Linked DNA regions of Homo sapiens: region 1 is linked to region 2. Evidence: fine-mapped QTL for protein levels in blood plasma. A gene starts in region 2. The other region holds a variant in brackets. All regions are shown on one strand. Distances are from middle to middle. Region 1 overlaps NEK4 (NIMA related kinase 4). Region 2 holds the start of ITIH3 (inter-alpha-trypsin inhibitor heavy chain 3).

The links. PIP is the chance, under the fine-mapping model, that this variant and not a neighbour inherited with it causes the effect. Protein levels are from antibody-based Olink assays in UK Biobank. Linkage for the fine-mapping came from a reference panel and not from the study's own genotypes, which makes the PIPs less certain.
Region 1: its variant is fine-mapped to the plasma level of the ITIH3 protein (UK Biobank, PIP 0.99).

Annotation. Positions count from the first base shown.
Region 1 is chr3:52,755,470-52,770,413 of GRCh38, reverse strand. NEK4 (NIMA related kinase 4) reads left to right here. Exons shown (of 16, transcript NM_003157.6): 2 at 1,810-2,076; 3 at 4,039-4,236; 4 at 4,420-4,527; 5 at 6,790-6,944; 6 at 9,478-9,619. Among named protein-coding and RNA genes, the nearest start is that of NEK4, 8.0 kb to the left of the region's middle. The variant A/G (reference allele first, on the strand shown) is at 7,369.
Region 2 is chr3:52,783,638-52,798,581 of GRCh38, reverse strand. It overlaps ITIH3 (inter-alpha-trypsin inhibitor heavy chain 3), which reads right to left and starts at 3,786. Exons shown (of 22, transcript NM_002217.4): 1 at 3,686-3,786; 2 at 2,959-2,979; 3 at 1,935-2,101; 4 at 1,739-1,843; 5 at 1,315-1,477; 6 at 652-765. The coding sequence starts at 3,778. ITIH1 (inter-alpha-trypsin inhibitor heavy chain 1) reads right to left here. Exons shown (of 22, transcript NM_002215.4): 11 at 14,105-14,286; 12 at 13,353-13,538; 13 at 12,148-12,287; 14 at 11,483-11,637; 15 at 11,380-11,394; 16 at 10,970-10,990; 17 at 10,516-10,596; 18 at 10,237-10,350; 19 at 8,728-8,929; 20 at 7,661-7,833; 21 at 6,954-7,065; 22 at 6,520-6,800. The coding sequence ends at 6,671. RefSeq lists an enhancer at 3,299-4,188.

The DNA.
Region 1 (14,944 bases), 28 kb after region 2:
CTAAGTTTTATGTAAAAATTTTCAGTCTCTGCCTATCTACTTCTTTGTTGTACTAATTGGCATGCGTGATCTACACACCTTTCTCCCAACCCCGATACTCTCATGAGAGCCGGTATCATGCATTCCCAGGACTTAATACAGCGCCTAGCAAGCATTATTCCTTGAATGAAGGGCCCCAAACGTCTCTACTGTAGACTGCTGGATTCACTTAAAACTCGACTCATTTTCTTCCCGCCAAACCTTCTCTCATGTCTTCCGTTTCAGTGAATAGTGACACCAACCCACCAGTTGCCCAAGCCGGACACCTGGAGTCATTTTTAAGCCTCCCCACGCACCCCAACACTGATTATATTCATCTATCACTAAGACAATAGGCCTCCTCTCATCTCTACTGCTACCACCCCAATCCAGGACACCCTGTTGTCTCTAGCAAAGCTATGGCCACGGTTTCCCAACTGGTCGCCGCCACTTGACTTGCTTTTCTCCAATCCATCACTTTCACTGCAGCCTCAGTGATCTTTCTCAAATTTAAATCTGATGTTGTCACTCCTCTGTTTAAAACACTTTATCCCATTACTCTCAGGATAATGAACCAATTATTCAATGTGGTTTATTAATAGGGTGACAATATAATGTACAAACTGGGACAATTTTGAAACTGAAAGGCATTATTAATAGTTACACCAGGACAGTAGGACTGCTCCAGGCAAGCTGAGAAGAGATGTTCCCCCTAAATATAGGGCCCAATTGCCTGTTCTTCCTTGTCTCTGGTGCTAGTTGCTTTGCGTGGAACACAAGCTCATGCATAAGAAATTTATTCAGTAGGCATTGGGGGAATCATTGGATTTTGGGGCTGATGATAGGGAACTAGCAATAGCTAGTTATTTGAGCTTTAGTTTACACTTCACAAAACACATTTATCTATGTGTTGAAGAAATGAATTGTATGGTCTTTGAAATGATTGAGGGCAATGTATTAGGTATTAGAGGCTATTGATTTCTTTTAAGTGTGAATAATTTTGTATGCTGAAGATCAGTGACTATTAAACTTATGGGGCCATGGATCCCTTTGAGTATCTAACGTAATCCACAGACTATTCTGTCTGCAAATGTATAGTCAAGCTATATTTTATTCACCTTTTTGGGAGAGCTTAGATATTAAGGAATTTCTTTTTTTATTTTTTATTTTTTTTGAGACAGAGTCTTGCTCTGCCTCCCAGGCTGGAGTGCAGTGGTGCGATGTTGGCTCACTGCTGCAACTACTGCCTCCCAGGTTCAAGCAATTCTCCTGTGTCAGCCTCCCGAGTTGCTGGGACTATGGGTACACACCACCACGCCGGGCTAATTTTTGTATTTTTAGTAGAGACAGGTTTCACCATGTTGACCAGGCTGGTCTTGAACTCCTGACCTCAGGTGATCCACCCGCCTCACCCTCCCAAAGTGCTGGGATTACAGGTGTGAGCCACTGTGTATGGCCAGATATTAAGGAATTGCTAACACAGGTTTTATAATTGATCCAATGGTATGTTATCTTGAACTCACTTTTTTTAGTCATTAATGAAATTGTGAAATGCAGATGGGAAAGGTAATTTTTGTGGCCCTACACTGCTATAAATCTAACTTATAAGAAGTATCAATAATAGCAAATATTTTCCCCGATTTTGTGCTTGGTGAAAAACAAAATGAATAGGTTATCTGACAGGCTCCACAAGGTTGGTTTTGAGGGTATTCTTGAGAGCCCTTAGATAACTCTGAGGCCACAAATCTTACGTTTATTTGCACATTGTAAAAATACATGGTTTGTTTTTAGTATGTCATCAAAAAACTGAACCTCCGAAATGCCTCTAGCCGAGAGCGGCGAGCTGCTGAACAGGAAGCCCAGCTCTTGTCTCAGTTGAAGCATCCCAACATTGTCACCTACAAGGAGTCATGGGAAGGAGGAGATGGTCTGCTCTACATTGTCATGGGCTTCTGTGAAGGAGGTGATTTGTACCGAAAGCTCAAGGAGCAGAAAGGGCAGCTTCTGCCTGAGAATCAGGTGGTAGAGTGGTTTGTACAGATCGCCATGGCTTTGCAGGTACTGTGTAGACTAATAGCATCCTAGCTTGTTCCCAGATGGCAAGAAGATGGCAGGTGTATTTTAGGAAAATTTTTCTTCAGATACTTACATATAGAAATGTATTTTTTGGAAAATTCATTTGTGAAGTTGACCCAGTCACTCTTTCTGTAGCATTGGAACTTTTCTAAGTAAGTGATACCTATATTAAAATAGACATAGATTTCATGTCTGATTGCAGGGGAAGCCCACTCAATTACCATTTATAGCAAAGTCAATTTTAAGGACCCTGAGGCAACCAAGAGCATAGAGTGACTATGTTTGTTATCCATTGGTCAGTCGTGTCATGCTGAAAGGTGGCTAGGCTAATTGATATGCCCAGTGATTTCATCTGTCAGTCTGCTGGGGTACAGTAGATGGGAATGCAAAACAAGTTTTCTTTTTTTTATTTTTTAGAATTGGGCAGCACATCATTCCTTAAGATGGAATAAGTGTTCCTACAAGTTTGTGTTTTAATATGCATATAACTCAAAAGCGAGACGTTTATGAAATACTATTTTGGAACTGGGTAGACTTGTCCAGAATTAATTGACCATGTTTAAATTCTGAGATACTTTCTCTCTTTTTTTTTTTTTCTTTTGAGACGGAGTTTTGTTTTTGTTATCTAGGCTGGAGTGCAATGGCACGATCTCGGCTCACTGCAACCTCCACCTCCCAGGTTCAAGCGATTCTCCTGCCTCAGCCTCCCAAGTAGCTGGGATTACAGGCGCCTGCCACCATACCTGGCTAATTTTTTTTTTTGTATTTTTAGTAGAGATGGGGTTTTACCATGTTGGCCAGGCTGGTCTCGAACTCTTGACCTCAGGTGATCCACCTGCCTCGGCCTCCCAAAGTGCTGGGATTATAGGCGTGAGCCACCACGCCCGGCTGAGATACTTTCTCTAAATAAAAATGCTCTTGCTGTACTTGAAAATATTATTAAGCTGAGGATTTCATGGGTCTGAGAGGACTGTGCGTCTGACTTTGTATAAGTTGTCCTACCATCAGTGGAGTTTGTAAGCATTGTTTTTTTTTTAAGACAGAGTGTCACTGTCGCCCAGATTCGAGTGCAGTGGCACAATCGTGGCTCATTCCAACCTCCACCTCCTGGGTTCAAGTGATTCTTGTGCCTCAGCCTCCCAAGTAGCTGGGATTATAGGCGTGCGTCACCATGCCCAGCTAATTTTTGTATTTTTTTAGTAGAGATGGGGTTTTGCCATGTTGCCCAGGCTGGTCTTGAACTCCTGGCCTCAAGTGATCCGCTCACCTCGGCCTCCCAAACTGCTGAACACTGCGCCTGGCCTGTAAACATATTTTTTTTTTTTTTGAGACGGAGTCTCGCTCTGTCGCCCAGGCCGGACTACGGACTGCAGTGGCGCAATCTTGGCTCACTGCAAGCTCCGCTTCCCGGGTTCACGCCATTCTCCTGCCTCAGCGTCCCGAGTAGCTGGGACTACAGGCGCCCGCCACTGCGCCCGGCTAATTTTTTGTATTTTTAGTAGAGACGGGGTTTCACCTTGTTAGCCAGGATGGTCTCGATCTCCTGACCTCATGATCCACCCGCCTCGGCCTCCCAAAGTGCTGGGATTACAGGCGTGAGCCACTGCGCCCGGCTTGTAAACATATTTTTAAACTGGATTCATGTAATGCCAAAATGGTATAATTGTCAAGCTACCAGGGAACAGTTTTGATGGGTACTGGGTAAGTCAACACATGGAACTTAATTTTCTCATTTCAAAAATTGTAAATTAGACCTTTTATTTAGAGATTATAAAGCAATAATGTTTGGTAGGTATTTGCTTGTTGAATAAGGAATTGTATGGTTGGTTACTCTTTACGGTCAAAGACTCTAACTCATGCCATTGCTGATGGTATATAATAAGCCAGGAATAAATACATAATTAAGTCTATTTATATGTAATAAAATCTTGTTTCTTTCCTCAGTATTTACATGAAAAACACATCCTTCATCGAGATCTGAAAACTCAAAATGTCTTCCTAACAAGAACAAACATCATCAAAGTAGGGGACCTAGGAATTGCCCGAGTGTTAGAGAACCACTGTGACATGGCTAGCACCCTCATTGGCACACCCTACTACATGAGCCCTGAATTGTTCTCAAACAAACCCTACAACTATAAGGTAGGATTGGGCTCTGTATGCTGGCTTACCTTGTCTCTGGGAGAGTGCTTGTAATTTCAGAAGTTAATTAAGTCAGAGAATTATCTATGAATTGGTTTAAGGAAAATGTTTTCTTTTTTTAAAGGGAAAAAAATGTAAATAAGCTATTCTGACATTTAACCGTTTACTGTTTTTATTTTCTAGTCTGATGTTTGGGCTCTAGGATGCTGTGTCTATGAAATGGCCACCTTGAAGCATGCTTTCAATGCAAAAGATATGAATTCTTTAGTTTATCGGATTATTGAAGGAAAGGTAAAGAATAATCTAGAACTAATTGACCAGTATTTCTATAGTGCAGCTTTATAAATAGCTACTAGCAAAATCATTGATGATTTTGATGAGTCAATGAGTAATTATTGAGATTGGGTTGATAGTTAACAATGGTGGGTCCCTTCTGTGGGGAAGGTCAGACTAGAGGAAAAGGGATTGATGGATCATTTCTTAATATTAATCTGTAAGCCAGCTTAATGGCTCAAAAGAATTGGCTTTTTGAAAACCTATGCCTATAGTCATAGGATGTGCCGATGCCCTGAGAGGCTATTTGTCTCTTCTTCTAAGCAGCCTATGATTCAATGAGCTACATTTAAAATGAGTTTACTCTGTTTGAACTTGTCGTTCCTTTGATAATCATCACAACAATCAGTAACTAGTTAAGAATCACAGAAAGCATTGTGTCTGATATAGACTCCAGAGTGACTGGCTTTGTATGTTCCATGAGGCTAGTTGCCCTTTATAGATTCAGGCATCCATGTATCATTAAGGTTTTTTTTTTTGTTTTTTTTTTTTTGAGATGGAGTTTTGCTCTTGTCTCCCAGGCTGGAGTGCAATGGCATGATCTCAGCTCACAGCAACCTCTACCTCCTAGGTTCAAGTGATTCTTGTGCCTTAGCTTACCAAGTAGCTGGGATTACAGGCACATGCTGCCAGGCCCAGCTAATTTTTGTATTTTTAGTACAGACGGGGTTTCACCATGTTGGCCAGGATGGTCTCGAACTCCTTACCTCAGGTGATCCGCCCGCCTCAGCCTCCCAAAATGCTGGGATTACAGGTGTGAGCCACTGCACCTGGCCAATGTACTGTTAAGTTTTAAAGGCCATAAATCATCTATTGATTTTAATACTATCCCACAACTTATTTAATTTTTCAATTTGAAGCATATTGAAAAACACACACAAAAGTAAAATTTTCCCATAATGCCACTACTTAAGAATCAAACAAGAAGGGAGTGAAATTCTCTTCTCTTTCTATTCCCATTCCCTGGAAGATGACCATTGCTAGCAAATTGGTACATGGCCTTTCTGGTTTTTTCCTGTCTTTATACAGACATAACTCTGTGTGTGTGTGTGTGTGTGTGTGTGTGCATGTGTGTGTGTGTGCATGCGCACGCGCACACCCACAGATTCTTAAACTGAAATCAGGCTGTTCACATGGTACATAACTTGTTTTTTTGACTTAATATATGAGGAACACATCCTTCCAAGTCGGTACCTGCAAGTTTTTTTTTTTTTGAGACAGAGTCTCACTCTGTTGCCCAGACTGGAGTGCAGTGGTGCAATCTCAGCTCACTGCAACCTCTGCCTCTCGGGTTCACGCCATTCTCCTGCCTCGGCCTCCCAAGTAGCTGGGACTACAGGTGCCCGCCACCACGCCCGTCCACTTTTTTGTATTTTTAGTAGAGATGGGGTTTCACTGTGTTAGCCAGGATGGTCTCCATCTCCTGACCTCATGATCCACCCGCCTCGGCCTCCCAAGGTGCTGAGATTACAGGTGTGAGCCACTGCACCCGGCCCAAGTCTTGTATTTTTTAACCTGCTGCCTAGTTTCGTTTCTTTTCTTTCTTTTTTTTTTTTTTTGAGACAGAGTCTCGCTCTGTTGCCAGGCTGGAGTGCTGTGGCGTGATCTCGGCTCACCGCAACCTCCACCTCTCTGGTTCAAGCAATTCCCCTGCCTCAGCCTCCTGAGTAACTGGGATTACAGGTGCATGCCACCACGCCCAGCTAATTTTTTTGTATTTTTAGTAGAGACGGGGTTTCACCATGTTGGCCAGACTGGTCTCAAACTCCTGACCTCAGGCAATCCACCTGCCTCGGCCTCCCAAAGTGCTGGGATTACAGGCGTAAGCCACTGCGACTGGCCCTAGTTTTTATAAGAAGAATGCATGATAATTTATTCCACAAATCCCCTAAGGGACATTTATGTTTCCAATTGTTTACTACTGCAAGAACAGTACTGCATTGAACATCCCGATACATAAGTCTTTAGGAAACTCATACTCTTATTTCTGAATGAGAGTGTCATCAGATGGGACTGCTGGGTTGGAGGATATACTTTTATAATTTTACAACTTGTTATCTTACAACTGGGATACCAGTACACTTCCTGTAGACTAATATACTGATTGTTTTCTGCTTATGTGGACATATGACTATAAATAAATATTGGGAAACCTCTACCAGCTTTTACTTTGTTTCACAAGACCATTAGTCATAATTACAATATTATTTTTATTTGTAGCTGCCACCAATGCCAAGAGATTACAGCCCAGAGCTGGCAGAACTGATAAGAACAATGCTGAGCAAAAGGCCTGAAGAAAGGCCGTCTGTGAGGAGCATCCTGAGGCAGCCTTATATAAAGCGGCAAATCTCCTTCTTTTTGGAGGCCACAAAGATGTAAGATACTTCCCTTGCAAATAGCTGGGCTAAATAGATGGGGTGAAAGAGGGTGGCTTCTGTAATATTCATATGCAAGAATTAATGGTGAGTTTTCTTAAAAACAAGAAATAAAATGGCATGATTACATATGTAGAGGAGGCAAAATTCTACCCTCTTAGGGTTTCTTGGCTGAGCTTGAGAATTAAACTTATAATTTAACAGGAGAAAAGCATGTAGATTTCTTTAATACCTGAATAAGTTTTATGTGACACAGGAGCCCTCATAAGGAAATGAAGACCTAACTTCTACTAAAAATACAAAGAAGTGGCAAAACCTAAATGCTTTTTGCTTGATTGAACAAAGAGAGGCAATTGTGGAAAAGTAAACTAGGTGGAGAGGCTAAAGGAAGATAAGAATTATTTTAATAAGGTCTGTTTATAGA[A/G]TTCTCTCAGTTTCAGCTTTCCATTCTTGATAATAAGAATGTTACTTTCCTTCTGGTACAGGGAGGACGTATTTCATATGGGAGTTTTATCTTCTGCTTTCTGGAAGAAAAAGGGAAGATCAGAGTGCCCTTCTTGCACTTACTTTTTTTTGTTTGTTTTTTTTTGAGATGGAGTCTTGCTGTGTCACCCAGGCTGGAGTGCAGTGGCATGATCTCAGCTCACTGCAACCTCCGCCTCCCGGGTTCAAGCAATTCTCCTGCCTCAGCCTCCCCAGTAGCTGGGATTACAGGCACCCGCCACCGTGCCCGGCTAATTTTTGTAGTTTTAGTAGAGACAGGGTTTCCCCATGTTGGCCAGGCTGGTCTTGAACTCCCGACCTCGTGGTCCGCCCACCTCGGCCTCCCAAAGCTTGCACTTACTTTTTAAAGAACCTTAGCCCAAAATAATCTTTATGCCAAAGTAGCATATTTTGGCGTGGCATATTCTCCCAGTCTTCAAATACATGTTGAAATTTGCTTAATTGCTAAAATCAGAAATTTGGAGAACCACTGTCACATTCCTCAGAGGGTTCTAAGACATATAGTGTAAATTTTTTTTTAAAGGACATATGCACTACTCTGGGCTCACTGCCTATGAGTTAGTCCTGTTCTCAAGGAGCAGCCAAATAATAATAAAAAAAAAGAGGGCATATGTTTTAGAAATCATATAATTAGAGATTATCTGAGAAACCTATACATCTTACTGTGTAAGATAGTAATATTTAAAAAGTAGTGCTCACATTTCTGAGAGCTTGCATAAAGTTCCCTCTTCATTCACATTAACTTCCCAAGAGAATTCCTTGCTTTGGCTTGCAGATCCTACCTTTACTAAACAGGTGTTCCAGGATCTAAGACTTAGGGCTGGACAAAACTATTACAATCTGTTTGGCTTCTCCTCTTGCCTTGTGGCATGTTAAATTTGGAAAGAGAGGAGGCAGTGCTAGAGATGCCTCAGGGAATAAAGAAGAACCATCTTTTTGTGTACATAATTTCCCACCAAGCAGACCTTTGGCCTTCCAGTGTACTGATCTCCATGCTCCTCTTGAATTCTCCAGAGGTTTAGCCCAGTTTTAGAAATGACATACTAAAATAGTTGGGGATGTTATTCCTGTATGCATTTATTCTATAAGCAGGACTAAGTGTACCAATCAGTTTTACTCTCAAAGTTAGCCAAGCAGTTGTGGTATTATTACAGACATGTAAAATTTGAAAATGAAAATTAACCTGATACTCCCGTATGTGAGGCAATCTCCCATAGAATTTTTATTTTGGAATAATTTTGTATAAACAGAAAAGTTGGAAAGATAGAGTGGAGAGTTCCTGTATACCCCTCATCTAGTTTCTTCTGTGATTACCAGATTACATACCCTAATGCATTTGTCAAAACTAAGAAACCAACATCGAAATATTACTATTGACTTGGCCATGCATGGTGGCTCACGCCTGTAATCCCAGCACTTTGGGAGGCCGAGGCTGGCAGATCACCTGAGGTCAGGAGTTTAAGACCAGCCTGGCCAACATGGCAAAACCCCGTCTCTACTAAAAAAAAAATACAAAAAAATTAGCCGGGCGTGGTGGCGTGCACCTGTAGTCCCAGCTACTCGGGAGGCTGAGGCACAAGAATCACTTGAACCTGGGCAGCGGAGGTTGCAGTGAGCTGAGATCACGCCACTACACTCTAGCCTGGATGACAGAGTGAAACTCTGTCTCAATTTTTTAAAAAAAGAAAGAAAAATATTACTATTGACTAAATTCCAGACTTTCTTTGGCTTTCACCAGTTTTTTTCTCTAATGTCTCTTTTCTGTTCCAGGATCCAATCCAGGATATAGTACATCTAATCAGGGGTCTGTGATTGTTTCTCACTTTGTTTATTTTTTATGACCTTGATTGTTTCAAAGACTACTGGTGAGGTGTTTTGTAGGATGCCCCTTAGATTTTTAGAAAACTATTCTCTATAAATGGTGCAGTTCTGTAAGGGAATTCATTGTATACACACACTCCCACATATACCTAAAAACCCTTAATCTTCAGTATATTGATAATAACTCTTTCTTTTCTTCTTTATAAAGAAAAACCTCCAAAAATAACATTAAAAATGGTGACTCTCAATCCAAGCCTTTTGCTACAGTGGTTTCTGGAGAGGCAGAATCAAATCATGAAGTAATCCACCCCCAACCACTCTCTTCTGAGGGCTCCCAGACATATATAATGGTACGTTTCTTTTTAAAGGGTATGTGTTTTAGAAACTGCACTTAGAAAAATGGGCCATCTAAGCAAATTATTTTGTGTGAAATGATTATGCTTTACTAGAGATTCTGTTGTACAATTAATTCCTTACTGTAAAGAAAGAATACTGGTTAAGGTGATTGATTTAGCTTTATCCAAATTGGGCTGTCAAATTGTTCACAAAGTCAGTGCTGTAATAACTTTAAGAATTTTTTAGGTGAAATTTATATAACAAAATTAACCATTTTAAAGTAAACAGTTAAGGCTGAGCGCGGTGGCTCATGCCTGCAATCCCAGCACTCTGGGAGGCCGAGGCTGGCAGATCACCTGAGGTCAGGAGTTCAAGACCAGCCTGGCCAACATGGTGAACCCTCATCTCTACTAAAAATACAAAAATTAGCTGGCTGTGGTGGCATGTACCTGTAGTCATAGCTACTCAGGAGGCTGAGGGAGGAGAATCGCTTGAACCTGGGAGGTGGAGGTTGCAGTGAGCCAAGACTGCACTACTGCACTCCAGCCTGGGTGACAGAATGAGACACTGTCTCAAAAATAAAAATAAAAATAAATAAAATAAAATAAATAAATAAAGTGATCAATTAAATGTGGCCAGTACATTCACAGTGTAGTGCAACCGTCACTTCTATGTAGTTCCAAAACATTTTCATCACCCCAAAGGAAATCTCTTCCTCATTAAGCAGTCACTCCCATTTTGTCCTTCACCCAGCCTCTGGCAACCACCAGTGTGTTTCCTGTCTCTATGAAGTTACCTGTCCTGGATATTTCATGTAAATAGAATCATTAAATATATCCTTTTGTTTCTGGTGTCTTCCACATAGCATATTTTCAAGGTTCATCCATGTAGCATGTATGAATACTTCATTTCTTTTTAGGTCTGGCTACCATTATGTGGATATACCACTGTTTATCCATTCATCCATTAGTAGACATCTGGGTTTTTTTCACCTTTTGGCTATTGCTATGAACATAAGTGTGCAAGTAGTTGAGTACCTGTTTTCCGTTCTTTTGGGTACATACCTAGCAGTGGAATTGCTGAGTCAAATGGTAATTTTTGGTTTGACTTTTTTTTTGGTTTGACTTTTTGAGGAACTGTTGCACTGTTTTCTACAGTGGCTGCACCATTTGACATTCCCATCAGCAGTGCACAAGAGTTCCAGTTTCTCCACATCTTTGCCGGCACTAATTATTTTCTGATTTTTTGATTCTAGCCATCCTAGTGGGTGTAAAGTGGTATCCTATTGTATTTTTGATTTGTATTTCCCTAACGATTAATGACATACAGCATCTTTTCACATGCTTGTTGGCCATTTGTATGTCTTCTTTGGAGAAATATCTGCTAAAGCTTTTGCTTTTTTTTTTTTGATACAGGGTCTTGCTCTGTTGCCTAGGCTGGAGTGCAGTGCTGCGATCACGGCTCAATCTAGCCTCCACCTCTCTGGATCAAGTGATCCTCCCACCTCAGCCTCCTGAGTAGCTGGGACCACAGCATGCCACCATGCCTGGCTAATTTTTTTATTTGTAGAGACAATGTCTTACTATGTTGCCCAGGCTGGTCTCAAACTCCTGGGCTCAGGAGGTCCTCCCACCTTGGCTTCCCAAACAAAGTGCTGGAATTACAGGCATGAGCCACTGTGCCCAGGCTTTTTTTTTTTTTTTCTTTTTTCTTTTTTTAAGAGAGGATCTTGCTCTGTTACGTAGGCTGGAGTATAGTGGCATCATCATAGCTCACTACAGCCTCTGAACTCCTTGACTCAAGGGATCCTCCTACCTCAGCCTTCCGATTAGCTGTGTCTACAGGTGCACGCCACCATACCTGGCTAATTATTATGATTATTTTTGTAGAGGTGGGTCTCACTATGTTGCTCAGGCTGGTCTTGAACAGTTCTTCTGCGTTTTCCTCCCAAAGTGCTGATATTACAGGTATGAGCCACATCACCCAGCCCCTGCCCAGTTTTAAATTGTGTTTTTGTCTTTTTGTTGTTGAGTTGTAGGAGTTCTCGATCTGTGTTCCAGATACTAGTCCCTTGTCAGATAGACAACTTGCAAGTATTTTCTCCATTGTATAGGTTGTCTTTTCTTTCCTTTTTTAGTTAAAATTTTTTTTTTTGTTTTTAAAAATTTCTTTTGTTTTTTCACTTTCTTGATAATGTCCTTTTCACAAAAGCTTCTAATTTTGATGAAGTCCAGTTTATCTATTTTTTTATTTTGTTGTCATAGCTAAGAATCCCTTGCCAAATCCAACGTCTTGAAGGTTTATGCCATAGTTTCTTCTAACAGTTTTATAGTTTTAGCTCTTATATTTAGGTTGTCGATCGAATTTTTAGTTTTAATTTTTTCATTATGATAAAGTACACATAATGTAAAATTTACTATTTTAACCATTTGTAAGTGTACAATTTAGTGGTGTTAAATACATCTATAATGTTATGCAGCCATCACCCCTCATCTTCATAACTCTCATATTGTAAAACTGAACTCTGTTACCATTAAACAGTATCTCCCCATTCCCTACTACCCCAGTCCCTGGCAACCACTGTTCTACCATTCTACTTTCTTTCTTTTTTTTTTTTTTTTTTTTTTTTTGAGATGGTGTCTTGCTGTGTCACCCAGGCTGGAGTGCAGTGGCATGATCTCGGCTCACTGCAACCTCCACCTCCCTGGTTCAAGCAATTCCCCTGCCTCAGCCCCCTGAATAGCTGGGATTACAGGTACACGCCACAACATCTGGCTAATTTTTTTTGTATTTTTAGTAGAGACAGGGTTTCACCACGTTGGCCAGACTGGTCTTGAACTCCTGACCTCAGGCAATCCACCCACCTTGGCCTCCCAAAATGCTGAGATTACAGGTGTGAGCCACTGTGCCTGGCCCACCATTCTACTTTCTGTCTCCATGGTTTTGACTAGTGTAAGTACCTCAGATAAGGAGATCTTGCATTATTTGTCTTTCATGACTGCCTTATTTCGTTTCACATAATATCCTCAAGGTTCATCCATGTTGTGACATATGTCAGAATTACCTTCCTTTTTAATGCTGAATAGTATTCTGTTGCATGTATATCCCACGTTTTGTTTATCTGGTTCATCTGCAGATGTACATTTGTGTTGTTTCCACCTTTTTTGCTAGTGTGAATAACGCTGCTATGAACATGAATGTACACTTATCTCTTTGAGACCCTGATTTCTTTTTTCTTTTTTTTTTTTTTTTTGAGACGGAGTCTCACTGTTACCCAGGTTGGAGCGCAGTGGCACAATCGTGGCTCACTGTAACCTCCACCTCCCAGGTTCAAGCGATTCTCCTGCCTCAGCCTCCCAAGTAGCTGGGATTACAGGCATGTGCCATCATGCCCAGCTAATTTTTGTATTTTTAGTAGAGATGGGATTTCACCATGTTGGCCAGGCTGGTCTCAAACTCCTGACCTCAGGTAATCCACCCGCCTTGGCCTCCCAAAGTGCTAGAATTACAGGCGTGAGCCTCTGCTCCCAGCTAAGACCCTGATTTCTCTTTTGTTGGGTATATAACCAGAAGTGGAACTGCTGACTACATGGTAATTCTAACTTTTTGAGGACCTGTGGTACTGTTTTCCACAACTTCTGTATCATTTTACATTCCTATCAGCAGTACACAAAGGTTCCAATTTCTCTACATTCTCACCAGTACTTGTTATTTTCTGGGATTTTTTAGTAATAGCCATCCTAATGGGCATGAGGTGGTATCTCATTGTAGTTTTGATTTGCATTTCCTTAGTGATTAGTTATATTGAGCATTTTTTGTGTGCTTATTGGCCGTTTGCTATCTTTTTGGGAGGAGCGTCTATTCAAATCCTTTGCCCATTTTTGAGTTGGGTCGTTCATTTTTTGCTGTTGGATTTTAGGAGTTCTCCATATATTCAGGATGTCAATTCCTTATCACATATATGATTTGCAAATATTTTCTCTCATTTTGTGGGTTACCTTTTTACTCTGTTGATAGTATCTTTTGATGCACAAAATTTTTAATTTTTGTGAAATCCAGTGTGTCTTTTTCTTGTGTTGCCTGTGCCTTTGGTGTCCTATCCAGAAAATCGTTGGCAAATCCAATGTTGTGAAGCCTTTGCCTTATGTCTTCTTCTGAGAGTTTTATAGTTTTAGGTCTTACATTTAGGTTTTTTGTTCATTTTGAGTTAATTTTTATATATGGTGTTAGGTAAAGGTCTGACTTCATTATTCTGTATATGGATATCTAGCTTTTTCAGCACTATTTGTTGAAAAAACTGTCCTTTCCTCATTAAATGATCTTGGCATCTTTGTCAAAAATCATTCGACCACATATGTGAAAGTTTATTTCTGGGTTCCCCATTCTGTTCCATTGGTTTCTATGTCTAATGTCTGTTTTTATACTAATACTACACTGTTTTGATAATGTGGTTTTGTGGTATGTTTTAAAATCATGAGGCATGAGTCCTCCATCTCTATTCTTCTTTTTCAAGATTGTTTTGGCTATTTGGGATCCCTTGAGATTCCACTGAATTTTAGGATGGATTTTTCTATTTTTCCAAAGAATGTCATTGGGATTTTGATAGGGATTAGATTGAATCTGTAGATTGCTCTGGGTAATATTAATATATTGACAATATTAAGCTTTTCTCAAGGAGATGCCCAAATGTAAAAAGAGAAAAAAAGAAAGAACAATGTTAAGTCTTTCAATCCATGAACATGGGATGTGTTTCCATTTATTTATGTCTTCTTTAAATTTCTTTCAGCACCATTTTGTAGATTTCACTATGTAAGTCCTTCTTTCGCCTTTTGGTTAATTCCTAATTATTTTATTATTTTTGATACTATTGTAAATTGAATTGTTCTTGTAATTTGCTTCTCAGATTGTTTATTGTTAGTGTATAGAAATGCAACTGATTTTTGTATGTTGACTTTGCCTCTTGCTACCTTGCTCAGTTCGTTTATTAGTTCCAACAGTTTCTGTATGTGGAATCTTTAGGGTTTCCTAGACACAAGATCATATCTGCAAAAGGAGATAATTTTACTTCTTCTTTTCTAATTTTGATGCCTTTTATTTTTTTTTTCCTTGCCTAATTGCTCTGGCTAGAACTTCTAGTACTATATTGACTAGAAGAGGTGAAAACAGGCATTCTTGCCTTGTTCCTGATCTTAGAGGAAAAGCTTTCAGTCTTTCACCATTAAATGTGATGTTTACTGTGGGTGTTTCATATATGACTTTTATTATGTTATGAATTTTTTTTTCTATTCGTAGTTTGTTGAATTTTTTTTTAATCATGAAAAGGTGTTTTTTTTTCACAG
Region 2 (14,944 bases):
CATTAAAAGGAATTTCTTGTAGGTTTGGAATGTTGGTGTGTGGGTGCCAAGAGGAGGGGAGGGAGAAAGGAGGAGAAAGGGGAGGAGGAGGGTCCCGGGGCAGGATGTGGCCCTGCAGAAGCCAGCAGTCCTCTGAGTGTGTGCTCCTCGGGCCTCGCCCTGGAAGTCCTGGATGATTGGTTTGTTGTTTATACAAACATTTATTCACCCACTGTCCACTGCCATTAAGGCCCCTGGAACAGCTGGGAGCCTTGGGGACTGGAGTCAACCACCTAGCACCAAGAATGAAGTTCTCTTTAGTCTTTCACCTCTCATTGTGGAGTCAGTAGATCTAAATGACTCCCTTGGGCTTCAGCCTCGGGACCTGTAAAACAGGGAAGATAAGCCCTGCCCTGTCCATTTCCCAAGGGGGAACGGGACCAGGCTTTGTAAATGGCTCCTCTGGCAGGTCATTGTCAGCAGCCCCTGCCCTCAGCATCCTCACTCCCAACCCCAGTGGGCAAGGAGGAAGGTGATAGTTGCAGATTGATCCCCAGCCCCACCCCAACACATGCATGCTTGCAGCAGCTAAGCCCTAGGCTGCAGGCTTGTTCTGCTGGAGTCAGTATTCCTGTCCCCTGCCCCACCAGGTCTGAGAGGCATCTACATCACCTTTTTCCCTGAGAAGGACTTGGTGAGGGCGCTTCCCAGGAGGTCGTTGGTGATGAAAGAGGCCTCAGCATCCAGCATGCTGATTCCCTGAGGCTCGAAGATGTCTACCTCGATCTGAAATGGCCAAAGTAAGGAAATGTCACTCAGTGACCTCAGAGGCCAGTTCCCAGAACAAGGCCAATGGGAATGAGATGGGTCTGTGGTGATGCAGGGACCCTCTAGGACAGTGCTGAGGGCCAAGCCTGGTGTCTCCCACTGCGAAAGTGACCACAGGGGCTTGGAGGAGAGTATGCTGATCGGGAGGTGTTACCACCGCCTGCCATATGCGCCCGAAATTCCACCACTGATGCTTTTCCTTTGGCTTTCAGCTTTGAGGTAGGAAAAATGCCCATGTGCCCAGTGAGAAGCCTTACAGAGGCACTTGCTGGTGTTGCTCTTGAGGGCCCAGCACCGAATCTGCATCTGTGGAGTCCATCCCAGCCTCTTCCCCTTGGCCCCAGATGCTTTTGGCCAGAACCATTGAATTCCTCCAGCCTTCCCAGCCAAGGATGGGGGATGCCGTGAGGCAGAACTTTTGTTTTTGACCCCTGTCTGAGACTGCCCCATGGGCGGGTTCCTGCACCCCGCTGCCGTCCCCCCAGGTCTGCAGGGGCGGTTGATTACCTCAAAGTGTTTGACCAGTTGCTTAGGCTGGACCTTGAGGTACATCTCGTACTTGCCCTTGTGCCTCTTCAGCAGCTCCTCGTAGGTTAGCTCGAAGGTGACTTTGCTGCCTGCAGCCACGTTGACCGAGACTGTGAACTTCTCCAACTTCCTCCCAGAGGCCCTGACCAGGGTGCGAGATGGTGACTCCCTCAAAGACTGCAGGAGCCCACCCTTCCTCGGCCCTCGGCCCCAGGCCCAGCCCTTTGGCGAGGGAGATCCCTAACCATTCTGAGCCTCACTTGCCTCAGCCTCAACGTGGGATAATGGCAAAATTATGGGCACATTTTGCTATACCAATAATAATAGCTGTTGTTGTTGTTTGTAGCCCTGAAGGCCCTTGGATCCCAGACATTCTCCCCAAGGCCTGGGAGTCCATACTTACTTGACCAAGCCGGCCGTCTTGCCCTGGGACACAGCCTTTTCATACTGCTTCTTGGCAACTTCCTTCTCCTTGACATTCCCAGGGTAGGTAACACCGTCGATGGTCCTGCAGGGAAAGAGAGTTGGGGGTAGGGAGATCACACTGGGCCAGACCCCCTGTTCCCGAGCCCAGAGCCAGCAGCCATGGTGGTACCCACAAGGTGAAGTTGGTGATGAAGGCCGTCTTGGGCAGCTCCACATCAAAGGAAACCTCCTTGGCCGTGTCTGCACGGTTGACGGCTCTCATGGTGACAACATTGTGAGCAAAACGGGAGGTCACCTTGGAGTTGATTTTGGTACTGTAGACCTCGATGCCATTGGCCACCTTTGGGGAGGTGGGTGGAGAATCAGCCAGACTGGGACACTGGAGAAGCAGGTTTGCAACCCAGCCACCTCCCTTGCAAACCCTTGGAGGCTCTGAGGCCCCTGCCCGGCACGCAACCCTCATCCTCCAGGTCTTCTACACTGGAAGACTTGGTGGCGTCTCCAGTCTCCATGTTCTGGTGGCCACCATTATTCAGATGCTTGTCCTGCCTCCTTAATTCTGCGATCCGTTTACACACCACTGCAGCCAGTGAGAGCTTGCCCTTTCCCGTCCAGTCACCCTGAGCTCCAGCTATGCGTGGGACACTGGCTCTGGAGCATCTGCCCCTGGCTCTTCCTGCTCATCCTCCACACCTCACACTCCCTCAAGCACACAGCCCAGCCCACCTCCTGGGTCTTTAGGTAATTGCCTCATTCTGTCTCCCAAAGAGGAACTGATTTCCTGTGCCAAGGGAAGTCTCCAAACACCCTCTTTCCAATAGGGGTGTTGAATTTTGAGAGGCTCTAGGGAGGTGTTCCAGCCCCCTCCCCCTAGGGATATAAAGATGCTTCGTGAGGGTGTGGCAGGGACCGCTTCACAGAGCCAGGTACCAGCAAGTGCTAAGGAAGTGTCTGCGGAAGGAAGGGATGCCTGTGAGGGGCCCTCTTGGGCTACATCCTGCGAGGTTGGAGGGGTCGTCACTCTGTGGTGCTCTTTCCCAGGAGTCCTGCGCTGTTGGAGGCTGCCAGGGCAGAGGGCCGTAAGCTGTTTGCCAGCTGTGAGGAGTCAGCTGTTATAGCCTACACCTTCAGCAGTTGGGGAACCAGCTCCATCCTGCCCTGCCCCACTCGGTCCCACCCCCTGGTGAAAGTTCTTACCCCTTCCGGGAGGCTCCGTTTCTGAAAAAACAAAAACAAACACAAACACAGGAATCAGGCCAAGGCCAACACCAAGGCCGCATGGCCTGGGAGGCTCTGGGCTGAGACCAGGGGTTCAGTGGTGCCCTGCCCCCCACACACCTGAGTGGCCCCCAGACATAGGACCCTCCAGAGCCACATGTCAGAGTAGGAAAAACTCTGAATAGATGGGGAAACTGAGGTCCAGAGAGGGGCAGGTATCCAGGTTACCAGGAGAGCAGGGCAGGGGGAACTGAACCCAGAGCTCTCTTCACACCCTACATGCCCCACCTCATTCTATCTCCCATTCTGCCTTTCCCTGGCCCCCAGGCCCCTTTAGGCCTCCTTCCAGAGCACCCCTGCCCCCGCCACACCCCGCAGGGCTCAACTGAGCATTTTGTAGAGGTCACACTCGTTTGAGACTTGAACCTTCATTGCCCCTCAGTGAAGTGAGCAGTTCCTGGTGCATTGCTCTTTTGACAGGTGGGGAAGCTGAGGCCCAGGGAGTTTTAAGAGCCTTCCCAGGGTTAGACAACAGGTTAGCATAGGCCTCAGCTGGAGCCCGGTTCTCCCAGTGTCCACACTACTCCCAGCAGCTCAGTGCCCAGCCCTCTGCCTCCTCTTCACTCCACTCAGAGGCCTTGCCCAGCATGATGCCTTCTGCCCATTCCACACCAAGACCCAGATGGCAAAGAGGGGGCAGACTCACCCCAAGCAGCCGAAAGGGGCTTCTCGGGAAGCCAGAGGCTGCCAAGCTGGAGAGCAGAGCCAAGATGAGACAGGGCCACCATGCAAATGCCATCGCTGAATACTCAGGCCTGGCCCACGCTCCTTATATGAGCAAGCCTGGTGTTTTCCAAGCAGGGTCAGTGACCTGCAGCGGGGGTGGGAGGAGTGGAGGCAGGAAGGGCCTCCGGGAAGCTGGGCATGGGTGGAATGACGGGTCCCTCGATGTGTCTGTCTGAAGAAGGCCTGGTGGGTCTTGCCAACAGCGTTGGGGCTTCATTCCTGAGAGACCGGGGGACTCGGAAGAGGCCCGCAGGAAAGCAGAAGCTGTGGGCCAACAAATGGACCCTGGGACTCCCTGGCGTGGATGATGGAGATGGGGTGTGGAGTTGCATTTAGGGCAAAGGGCATCTCAGCATTGTTGCCTCTTATCCCTACCACTGGGACAGCCTCTCTCTGGCCTCCTGGATTGCAGCCCCTCCCTTCTTGAGGCAGCCAGGGCGTGAAACTAGACTGTCACCTTCAGGCTGGGACCTCCACAGCAGAGCCCCTCGCTCACTACCCTTCTATGGCCCCCAAAGCCCCAGGGAAAGGACACACAACGATCCCGGAAGCCCAGCTGTCTCTGTGATCTGACCCCAGCTTGTTTTTCTGAGCTCACTCTCTTGCACCAGCACACCCTCCCCTTCTGCACATGTCACATCTTTCATCTCTCTGCCAGTCCCAGTGCCTCCCCTCCAGGACCCTTCCCTGGCCATCCCCTAGAGGACTATGGGACATCCCTGCTCCAAGCCCCAAGCCCCCTGAGGGCCTGCTTTGTCATGACCTTATGTTGAGGTGGATGTGCTCAGGTCTGCCTGCCCCCTCTGCACCCAGAGCTCCTGGGGGCTGGACCATGTCATGTTTCCCTCTGTGCTTCCAGGGCCCAGCCAGGGACTTGGCTGCCCTCAGCCTTTTGGGGAGTCATTGCCCTAAAAGTCGTAGTGAGGCTGGGCTCCAGCTTCCAGGACAACAGGAGCTTTAGAGGCAGGACCTGGTCTCAGTGGGGGCTGGGACCTCCTGAGCCACCTCAGGACCCTGCCAGCCTAGCCCCATCAGGGCAGCTGTTGCACACCCACCATACCCATGGCTTCTCTGAGCCAAGCTGACCCTGTGACCCTCCCACTGGGCAGCCCACTACTGAATGGAGTCGACAAGGACGGCTGGGTCCAGGACAACTAACTTATGGGGAGTTCAGCGGCCTCAGCTGAAAGCTCTGGTGCTGACTGGGAGATGTGCAGAGAGAGTTGTTGGGAGCAGAGGAACCAAGAAGGCAAAAGGCAGATGCCACGGGGCAGCGGAAGCCCTGAGGAGGGTGTGGTCTAATGGCTGGAAGAGGCAGCAGCCACAGAGCAATGATGGAGAGTTGCCAAATCAGCCAGGCACTATGGCTCTTGCCTGTAATCCCAGCTTTTTGGGAGACTGAAGCTGGAGGATCACCTGGGCCCAGGAGTTCGAGGCTGCAGTGAGCGCTGTGTTCGTGCCACTGCGCTCCAGCCCGGATGACAGGGCGAGACCCCCGTCTCAAAAAAAAAAAAAAAAATTGAAAAGAGGGAGTTTCCAAGCCAGTGAAATGATGGCCAAGTGGCAGATGCTGCCTGTGCTTGGTGTCTGGCTGGGCGGTGCCTGTTTCCCTCGGGCCTCCTGAACCCTTACACCAACCTCACTGGCAGCAGGCACCAAGCTCGGGCCTGATGGAGGCCAAACCCAGCAGGTGCTGGCGCCTGGGTGTGGAGAGAAGACCCCTCAGAGCTGCCGTGTCCTCATTTCCTGGCTTCTGGGATGTTTTCAGTCCTGTGGCTGCTGGCACTGGGTGGCTGGCACTGTTGCCCAATGGCTCCTCCTCACGGACCTGCAGCTGCCTGCAGAGCTTCTCCTGTACTCTCTCATCTGGACCACTGCCTCATCCCCAAGTGCCTGGAGTTTGGGGAGACGGACAACTCGAAATAGGGATTCTGTAGCTGCTCAAGCAGCCTCAAGGGATGGCTGGGGACTTGGAGGAACCAGAGTCGTCATGCAGACTTTATAATTAGACGGAATCTAAGAGATCTTTGGGTTCACCGCCTTTCCATTCTACAGGAGAGGGAGATGAGGCCCCCATTGGGCAGGCCTTGCCAAGGGTGACCCCGACAGCTGGCAGCTCACAGCTCTTCCTGGAGAACCCCAGGATACCTGGGAAGGTGGGCTGGCCGCCCCACAGCCTGCCGCTAGGGGCTCTGTGTTCATAGGGCCTGGGGCAGCCTTTGAGCTCAGCATTGGTGTTATTGATCCAGGCCCTCAAAACCAGTCCTTGTTCTGTCTGGTCCCTTGTGAGCCTCATTTATAGTGGAAACTGGACAGAAACTAGCAAGAAAAAGCAGAAAGCCTCTGGAAAGCAGTGGGTGGAGGCCTGTGCGCATTCACACACAGAGCTCTCTGACGTGTGGCTCACCTCCCTGCACCTGTGACATTGTGTTTTGACTGGGCCCCAAGGTCAAGCCAAGGGAGGGGACCCTGATGGGGTAATTCCAGGCATTCACATGAGGAGATGGTAGGGTGCCACTCCTGGCCCCCTGAAATCACAGCTTCTGGGCAGGGACCATCTCTGCCTTTGGAAAATACCAGCCTGGCTGCCAGACGTTACAAACCCTCAGCAGGGAAATGGTGTGAGCTTTCTTCCCAGCCTCTGACCTGCTTCTCCTCTCCCTGGGTCTGTTGTAACCCCTTAGTCCATCTGAGGGGCAGCATCTTGGGCTGCCTCCCTGCCATCCTCCCTCCCCAAAATCAGCCAGCTCAGGGTGGACACGGCCTCTCTTTAATGGAAGGCATGAGGTGCTTTGACACAAGGAACCAGCTTAGTCAAGGAGGTACAGCCTCAGCAGCAGGTCAGGATGTCGTCCTCCTCCTCTGCCTTGGCCCCGGGGGAGGACAGGCGTGCTGGCCAGAGGGCTCAGAAGATGTCGGGGACGATATAATCAGTGTAGGCACCATCGATGAGTCCAGCCCCATTGTTGTGAATGAACCAGCAGGACACCTCGGCCCCATGCCACGGGTCCTTGCTGTAGTCTTTTTGCAAACCCCTGTGCAGAGACAAGTCAGCTGGGGTCACCCTTCGGACCAGTAGGGCAGCACCTCCCCAGGAAGCTCACCCCACCCATGTGACACCTGGAGGAAGACCTGGAAGAACTACAAAGTGGCCGAGGGCAGACGTGCTGGGCAAGCAGCCCACCCACCTGGTGACCGTGAGCCGGCGGTTCCTCACCACCATCGTGGCATCTGGCTTTGTGGGGTCAGAGCCTGGGTGGATGTCAGACACTTCAAAACCGATGGGGTGGAAAAATTGCCCTAGAAAGGCACATTGGAGACAGCGGTTACCATCTCGGGGACTTGCTCCTGCCCTGCACTCAGCAGGTGCTCACTGCGGGGTTAGAGCATTGCTGGACCGCTTTTTTTCCAGGGCTTGACTGTTTCTGCTAACAGTCCCAGCATGAAAAGCTACCTTTGGTTCACTTGCTATAGAGAAGTAGATACATTTCTAGGTGGTCCTACCTCCTGTCTTTTAAAACGGGATCTGTCTGGGGAGAGAGGTTTGAGGGCAGGTGCCCATAGAGAGCAGTGTCTGTAGAAAGGCCACACAGGAGCAGTGTGGTCAGTGACCCACCCTACTCACAAGGTTCCTGGGAACCCTCTGGGCCTTTCTTTTTGCGATCAGACCTCTGCCCCTCACTTGCTCCCAGGCTCGCTTAAGCGTTTGTTTCACTGTGTGTTTGCTCACAGCCTCACCAACACAGCCCCTCAGACGGCTCTGCTCCTTGGAGGCCACACTGGAGGTGGGCCTGTCCTGGTGCCCAGCTATAGAACTGACCGGTGGCCCCAGGTCCCACATGTCCTCTGGCTTCAACACCCTTCCCCACAGCCCTGCCAGCCTGGCCAGCCGTACCCAGCAGCCCGTGCGTCCGGGCTGACATCCGATGACTGTCCAGCACATAGAAGCCCAGGAAGTCCTGGTGGACCGAGCTCCCCTTCCACACTCGGTGCAAAACAACCTCAAAGGTGCCACCGTCGTCCACAGACACCACCAGGTTCCTCTTCTTGTTGATGGTCACCACCACCCTGCAGAGCCAGGTGGCCGAGAGGGCAGGTGCGGCTGCACTGCATCCCTCTCCATTCAGCTGCCCTTGTCATCTGGGACCCAACCCTTATGACCACGCCCCCACCCCATGGCCTTCATCCCCAGATGGCCGGCTGTTACCTGTTCCACGCCCCTCCCCACATGTTGCTTGGGGCCCTTGCAATGTGCCAGGTCCTGTGCTAAGCCCTCTGTGCAAACTGCATCATTCAATCCTCACTCCGAGCCTGTGAAGTCCCAGGCTCAGAGAGGTTAAGTAACTTGCCCAAGGTAGCACAGCTGGTAAGCAGTGGAGCCAGGACTTGGACTTCAGGCTGTCTAATATCAGAGTCCGTGTTCTGTGACTCCCACTCATCACCTGTGACCTCCACAGCAGACTCTCCCCACCTCTTCCTATAGCTCTGCTGCCCAGCATTGCTCTGGTGCTTGGCACAGTTTGTTGAATGAATGAATGAATGAATGAACGAATTAGTAAAGGAAGGAAAAGTCATGAGACAATGCAGACTAAGACATGCCAAATGAGAAGCCCAGAGAAATCTGGAGTTCAGCAGAGGAAGAGAGCAGGAGGGCTGAGGGGAAGAGGTGGCCTCTTTGCTGGGCCTGGGAGGATGAGCTGGCTTTGTTTGGTAGAGACAGGGGTGGCATTCAGAGCTAAGGTGCGGTGGGAGCACAGTTGCCATGCAGCTGGGCCCAGAGGACATATCCAGTAACCAAGGGAAATGGAGGGCTGGGTGGGCCATGGAGTCTGACATGTCTGCACAGGCCACATGGGTGTCACCCACAGACATGGCTCAGGGACGAGGGCCCTGCAGACTCAGCAGAGTCCTGGGCCCAGGCCACACCTCCCCCTGCATCTTGCCCAGGCCCTGGCAGGTTACCCGTCCTGCCGCAGCACAGCTTGGTCCCTCCAGGAAAACACAGGCCCACCAAAGCCGGGGTTCAGCGTAATGTTCTGAGGAGTCACTTCCAACTGAAAGTCCGTGGCAGGGTTTGCGATTCCCAGCCGCCCGAAGTACGTGCCGTCATGCTGCCCAGGGCTCCTGGCCTTGTTGCCAATGAGCTGTCCATTCACTGAGAAGCCTGCAATGGAGCAAGAGGGCATCCGGGTTGGGAAGGGGCCTGCCTGCCTTTGCTTAGCAGGATCATGCCTCCTTCCTAAGAGGCCTCTACGCCCTGCCTGTGCCACTCTGTCTTTGAGAGTCTCCTGCCTCAGGGTCTCCAGGTCTGGTCCCGCACACAGCACCACCTCTCCTTCCTCTCCACCCCTCCTGCCATGCCAAATATCCCATACTCAGCTCTCAGTTCTGGGTCCTAACGGAGGTCGTGCCTCCCCGAGAACAGGACCTAGCCTGCTCCTTCTCTGTGGCCCCAGCCCCTCACACAGGGACAGGCTCCCATTGTGCTGGAAATGCATTGTGGGACCTCTTCACAGAGGTCTCCGCTGACCTGGGCAGCCACAAAGCCCCCTTCCCACCCTCACGCTGCCAACCCAGCACGTCTCATGCTCTGAAATGATCATCTCAGAATGTTCACCTGTTTGTCTTCCCCTTCCCTAAACTCTATGAAAGCGGGACTATCTTGGCTCCCACTGCATTCCCAGCCCCTCGTTGGTGCACAACAAACACTTGCAGATGGACTAACTGGACAGGGAGGGAAGGAGACAGGAGGGAGCAGGGGTGAGAGAAGGAGAGGGAGCTGTTCCCCATAACCAAGGCACTGCTGGGAGAGAGGTGCTCTGCTCAGCCATGCTTCATGGGGAAGGTGGGGCAGGACTGTGACATATTTGCAGGACCTAGTATGAAATAAAAAGGAAGGGCCCCTTGTTTAGAAAGTGTTAAGGGTTTCAAGGCGGCAACGGAAGAGCATTAAACTGGCTGGGCACGGTGGCTCACACCTGTAATCCCAGCACTTTGGGAGGCCGAGGTGGACGGATCACCTGAGGTCAGGAGTTTGAGACCAACCAGGCCAACATGGTGAAACCCCATCTCTACTAAAAATACAAAAATAAACCAGTCATGGTGGCATGCGCCTGTAGTCCCAGCTACTTGGGAGGCTGAGGCAGGAGAATCACTTGAACCCAGGAGGCAGAGGTTGCAGTGAGCTGAGATAACGCCACTGTACTCCAGCCTGGGCAACAGAGCAAGACTCTGTCTCAGAAAAAAAAAAAAAAGCCCCTGTGTGCCTACCCCAGTCACATGCTGATAAAGCTGGCCCTGTGTAGGTGCAGCCAGGAGGATGGCGTGGGAAGGCAGCGGGCAGAGCCCAGCCAGGTGGATGGTGCCCAGGCAGAGGGCAGTGAGGGCCTTGGCCATAGTCCTGTTCCTGGCTGAATGTTGAGGGCAGAGGAGCCCTGGCCCTGTCTGGCAGAGGTGTGATGCCCGCCATACCTGTGTTGGGGTCCTGTACCAGGCTCAGGATAACACCAGGCTCCTCATTGATGTTGAAGCACAGGGTGTCCTCTTTCTGGGGCACGTGGATGATGAAGTGAGGGTCTGTGTCCACTGGGGGCACAGCATGGAATTCGTTAGATTGGACATCGGGCAGATGGGGCTGGCCAGGGGTTGGGGTTCAGCTAGGCAGGTCCCAGAGAGAGACAGAGAGAGAGAGACAGCCAGATAGGGTGGGTCCCAAACAGGGGTGTCCCTCAGACCCTTCCAAGGACTCACCGCCGGTCACTCGGTCTGGCAGCCGCTGGGTATTGGAGCTGGAATGAGTAGGAGAAGGCTGCAAGGCTGACAGCACGAACGCTGATGGGAGGGGGAGTGGCATTTAGAAGCGGGGCAGCCAGGCCTTCCCTGGAGCTGCTGATCCCTCTGATGACTCTTTCCTCACTGGTGGGGCTGGCCTGAGGCCACCAAGCAGGGATGTCCACTCAACATCACATGCCCTTGATTGGCTCCCGGGACACGGGGACAGAAGCTTGGCCTGGCATGTTTAGCTGGCCCCCTCTCTGTCTCCTCCCCCAGGGACCTCAGGCTGGGGAGGCCAGGCTGTTCAGAGGTCTGTTCTAAAGATTCCCAGTGACAAGCAGTGAAGACAGCTAGAACGGAGGAAGAAAGCCAACGGGGTGATCATCAAGGAGGGGTAGAGATGTGAATGGCCAGGATGGCTGCCACTTACTCCTTCTGGGTCCCAGCATCTCTGTAGAAGACAAGGACATATTATCGAAGACAGTGTCACCCACGGTGCCCCACACGAAAGGCATGCAGCTCTGTCCACAACAGGCCTGGGCCCAGCCGTCCCTCTGGGGGTCTCAGCCCTCCCCTGGGGTCCTGCCTCCTCACAGACATACACTCACACCAAGAGGGGACCAGTGGAGGCTGCTGGGGGTTCAGCCTGCACAAAAGCTCACAAAGCGCAGCAGGGAGTTCGCGGTGATGTGGAGAAGGGCGGCTCAGGGGACGGAAGAACGGGAAGGAGTGGAGTCAGGGAAGAATGGGGATGGGGAGCTGCGAGCCTGGGGCTGGAGCACCTGCCACCTGCCCAGCTACCGAAGCCCAGAACTGAAACTAATGCAATTTAAAACTCACCCAAAGGCGGAGAATCTGGAAGGGAGAGAAAGAGAAAATAATTAGAGCCCCAGAGGTTTTTGGCCCATGGCCTCTCCCTTCTGTAGACCCCTGCAGCCTATACCCTCTGAGGGCTTGTCGATGGTGGGCTTCAGGCCGTCCTGGTCCGCCATGCCCCTGATGCTCATGGAGGTCAGTGGGGTCACAAACCCATAGTCCAGCGACATCTGCAGGGCCTGGGATGACAGGTTGGCCCTCTCCTCCCTGTCCACCTTCATCCTGCATTCAAGACAGAGGCTGGCTCCAAGCCCCGACTTGCACGGCCCTCATCCTTTCACCTATCCATTCACTTATTCATTCATTCATTCATTCATTCATTCATTCGACACATAAGTATTAAGCCCCCATGGTGTCCTATGCAGTGGCTACATCCTCAGGGGCCTCCAGGTTTAATGATCTCTTACAGAGATCACTTGGAGATTCGGTGGGGTTGAGGGGCATGCCTCAGAGATACGCAGAGACGTTAACAGCTGTGAGATCTGGGTCAAGAGGTCTAACCTCGCTGAGCCTCTGTGTGCTGAGTGTGGGTAAATAGCAGGCTGCCTTGTGCCCTGGTGGGCCTGCCCGGACTGTTGACTGACTGGTTGATATTAACTCAGTGAGCAAAGCAGAAGAGGAAAGTAAATCTGACCTACTTGCCCCAGAACCACCCCTCCTCTGCTCACCTCCAAGGGGTGGGGGGACTCTGGGGTGGGCAGTGCCCACCTGGGGCAGCTGCAGGTGCCCTACCGCTTGGCCAGCAGCTCCTGGATGGTGAGGTAGGCCCAGAGGCGCTCGACGTGGTTCTCCAGCATGTGGCCACGCTCTCGGAGCAGTTTCTTCATCTCCTCCTCATCCACTAGGCAGGTTATACTGAATTCTTGTCCCTCCTGAGAGTTGAGGTACAGAGAGGGGTGGTGCACCATGATAAGCACGGCCCCTGGCTGGTGCTAGGGGCTCTGAGGGGCCCATTTCGTCTGGTATCTGCAGCTTCGTCCTCAGCATCACCTGCTTCCCTGAGCCTGTTCGCCTCATCCTATTCGTTGATTCTTGCCAAGCACCCTCTGCAAGCCAGGCTTGGCCTGGACCCTAGGGATCCCATGGAATGGGAGAACCAGGCCCTGCCTTGTGGAGTTTCTCTAGGGGAGGCCAATAAGCACCCGGCTGTTTCCACTATGACCCACTCCAAATGCCCACCAAATTCTAGGTGGGCTGCACCATTCAACTTGCCACGGCACACAAATGTGCCTCCTCCATCCAGCTACATTAACCGGGGCACCACTTCCCAAGGGCATCCTATGCACCAGCTGCTGCCTAAGGGTATTATATGGATTATTCCATTTACTCCACACAATGCTCTGATGCAGTATGGTACAGAAAAGGAAACTGAGGCCTAGGGAACTGGACCCCTTGCCCAAGGATGCCCAGCTGGTCAGGATGGAGCCAAGGTCCAGCTCAACTCTCCTTACTCAAAGCCTGAGTTCTGAACCTTCGACCACACTTAGGGCGTTGTCTGTGTCCTGGAGGGCAGGATCCAGGTCTCACATGCCTGTCCCCACCACACACAGGTGCACATACATGCATGCACTGCACCATGGCACAAAGCCTGGCACACAGTAGGTGTTCAGGAAATGGTTATCAAATGAGAAGGGAGAGGTTGGTCTCTTGCTCTCTTGCACCTTGGGATGAATGATGCGAAAAATAACAATTGGTCACTGGGGGCCGAGGGACTGCAACTGATAAAGGCCATATTGGCCCCATTCCAGCCAATCCAGCCCCCAGGATGCCTGTGTGGAGGGATGTTCAGGCCTGGGGTGTATGTGGCATGGTGGGGATGAGGGTACTACTCTGGGGAAAGAGAGGCCTCTGGGGGATGGCAGGAATGGGGAACAGTGTGGGTTTGGAGCCTCTAGGGTGCTGCCTGGCCTCTCCACCCTCCATGGCCCACCATTTACCCCATGGGCCTGCACATCAGCCTTGAAGCTGCTCTGTTTGTTGTCAGCAATGCGCCCGGCCACCACAATCTCTGAGCCTTCGTAGTACTGTTTATGGTGGTTCTGGGTCAGGGCCAAGACAGCATCCTGGGGGTACTGCAAATCCACATCCACCAGCAGGGGTTTGGCTACCTGGCTGTAGAAACCCTGCAGGGATAGAGGTTGCAGCCTTAGAGCTGAGCACCCTGGGCTCCTAATGGGAAGCCTGCCCACAAAGTGGAGTGTTGGGAATTCCCAAGTTAGAGAAGGAATTTGAGGGTCCGAGAGGTCAAGTAGCTGGCTCGAGGTCATGCTGCTGATTTTTTTTTTTTTTTCTGAGACAGAGTCTCACTGTGTTGCCCAGGCTGGAGTGCAGTGGCACAATCTCAGCTCATTGCAACCTCCACCTCCTGGGCTCAAGTGATTCTCCTGCCTCAGCCTCCCAGGTAGCTGAGATTACAGGCATCCACCACCACACCTGGCTAATTTTTGTATCTTCAGTAGAGACGGGGTTTCACCATGTTGGCCAGGCTGGTCTCGAACTCCCGATCCACCCACCTTGGCCTCCCAAAGTGCTGGGATTACAGGCTTGAGCCACCATGCCTGGCCCATGCAGCTGATTTGAACTCTATGCCAGAGCTTTATCTGCTCCTCTAGGCTGATGGGCAAACGGCCACCAAGGCAGGGCTCCCTATGGCATGCCATTGGAGGTACAGGGGGTTGTGAGGGGAGACCTGCAGCTGCTGGGTGGCATCATGGTCCTCGTAGATTCTCTGGGCCCGTCCGTTGTTCTCCATGGACATGACCTCCAGAAAGTTAAAGTCCACATTGTGGCCGAAACCCAGGTTGTAGAGCGGGAACCTGCCCCGGATGGCGTTGCGGACGTTCTTGAGGATTTGGGAACGGTCCGTCACCCCTGCAAGCCACACACCTGGGTAGTGACGGGATGCTGGCCCACAGGCATGTGGGGCACGAGGGGGCTCTGGGGAACACTCCCTGGGGCTCAAGCCTTCCATCTCAGAGCATCTCCAGGCTCCTGGGCATCCTGAGGCATCGCGTCCTCCTGGCTCTCCTGGGAGACTGCAGCAGCTATCAACAGCTCCTCACAGACCCCGCCCATCTAGGTGGGTCCATCACCAGCAGGTCTGATTCTGCTCGAAATCCTGCCATGGCTCCTTTGCCATGGACTGCGAGACCCTGCTGACCTTCCCACGCTTGTTTTACCCCATTCTGCACATGCCCACAGTTCCCGGGCAGGCCCTGCCAGTGCACACACCCTTTTTATGACTTAAGCTGCCTCTTCTGCCTGGGATCCCTTCCTGCCACTCTCCCCTCTTTCTAGACTGAGCTCAGGAGTCACCTCCTCCAGGAGGCCTTCCCGGACATCCCCCTGGGTCAGGTGTCCTTTGTCTATGGTTCCACAGCCTCAAGCACCCTGTTCTTTCAGGGCCCTCAGTATCTACTCCTGGATCTGCTTCCCCCAGTAGGTCCCGGGCTCTTTGAGGGCAGAAATATGTCTTGTTCCCTTGGTATTTCAGTCCCTAGCCCCTTGCTTAGCATACAGTAGGTGATAA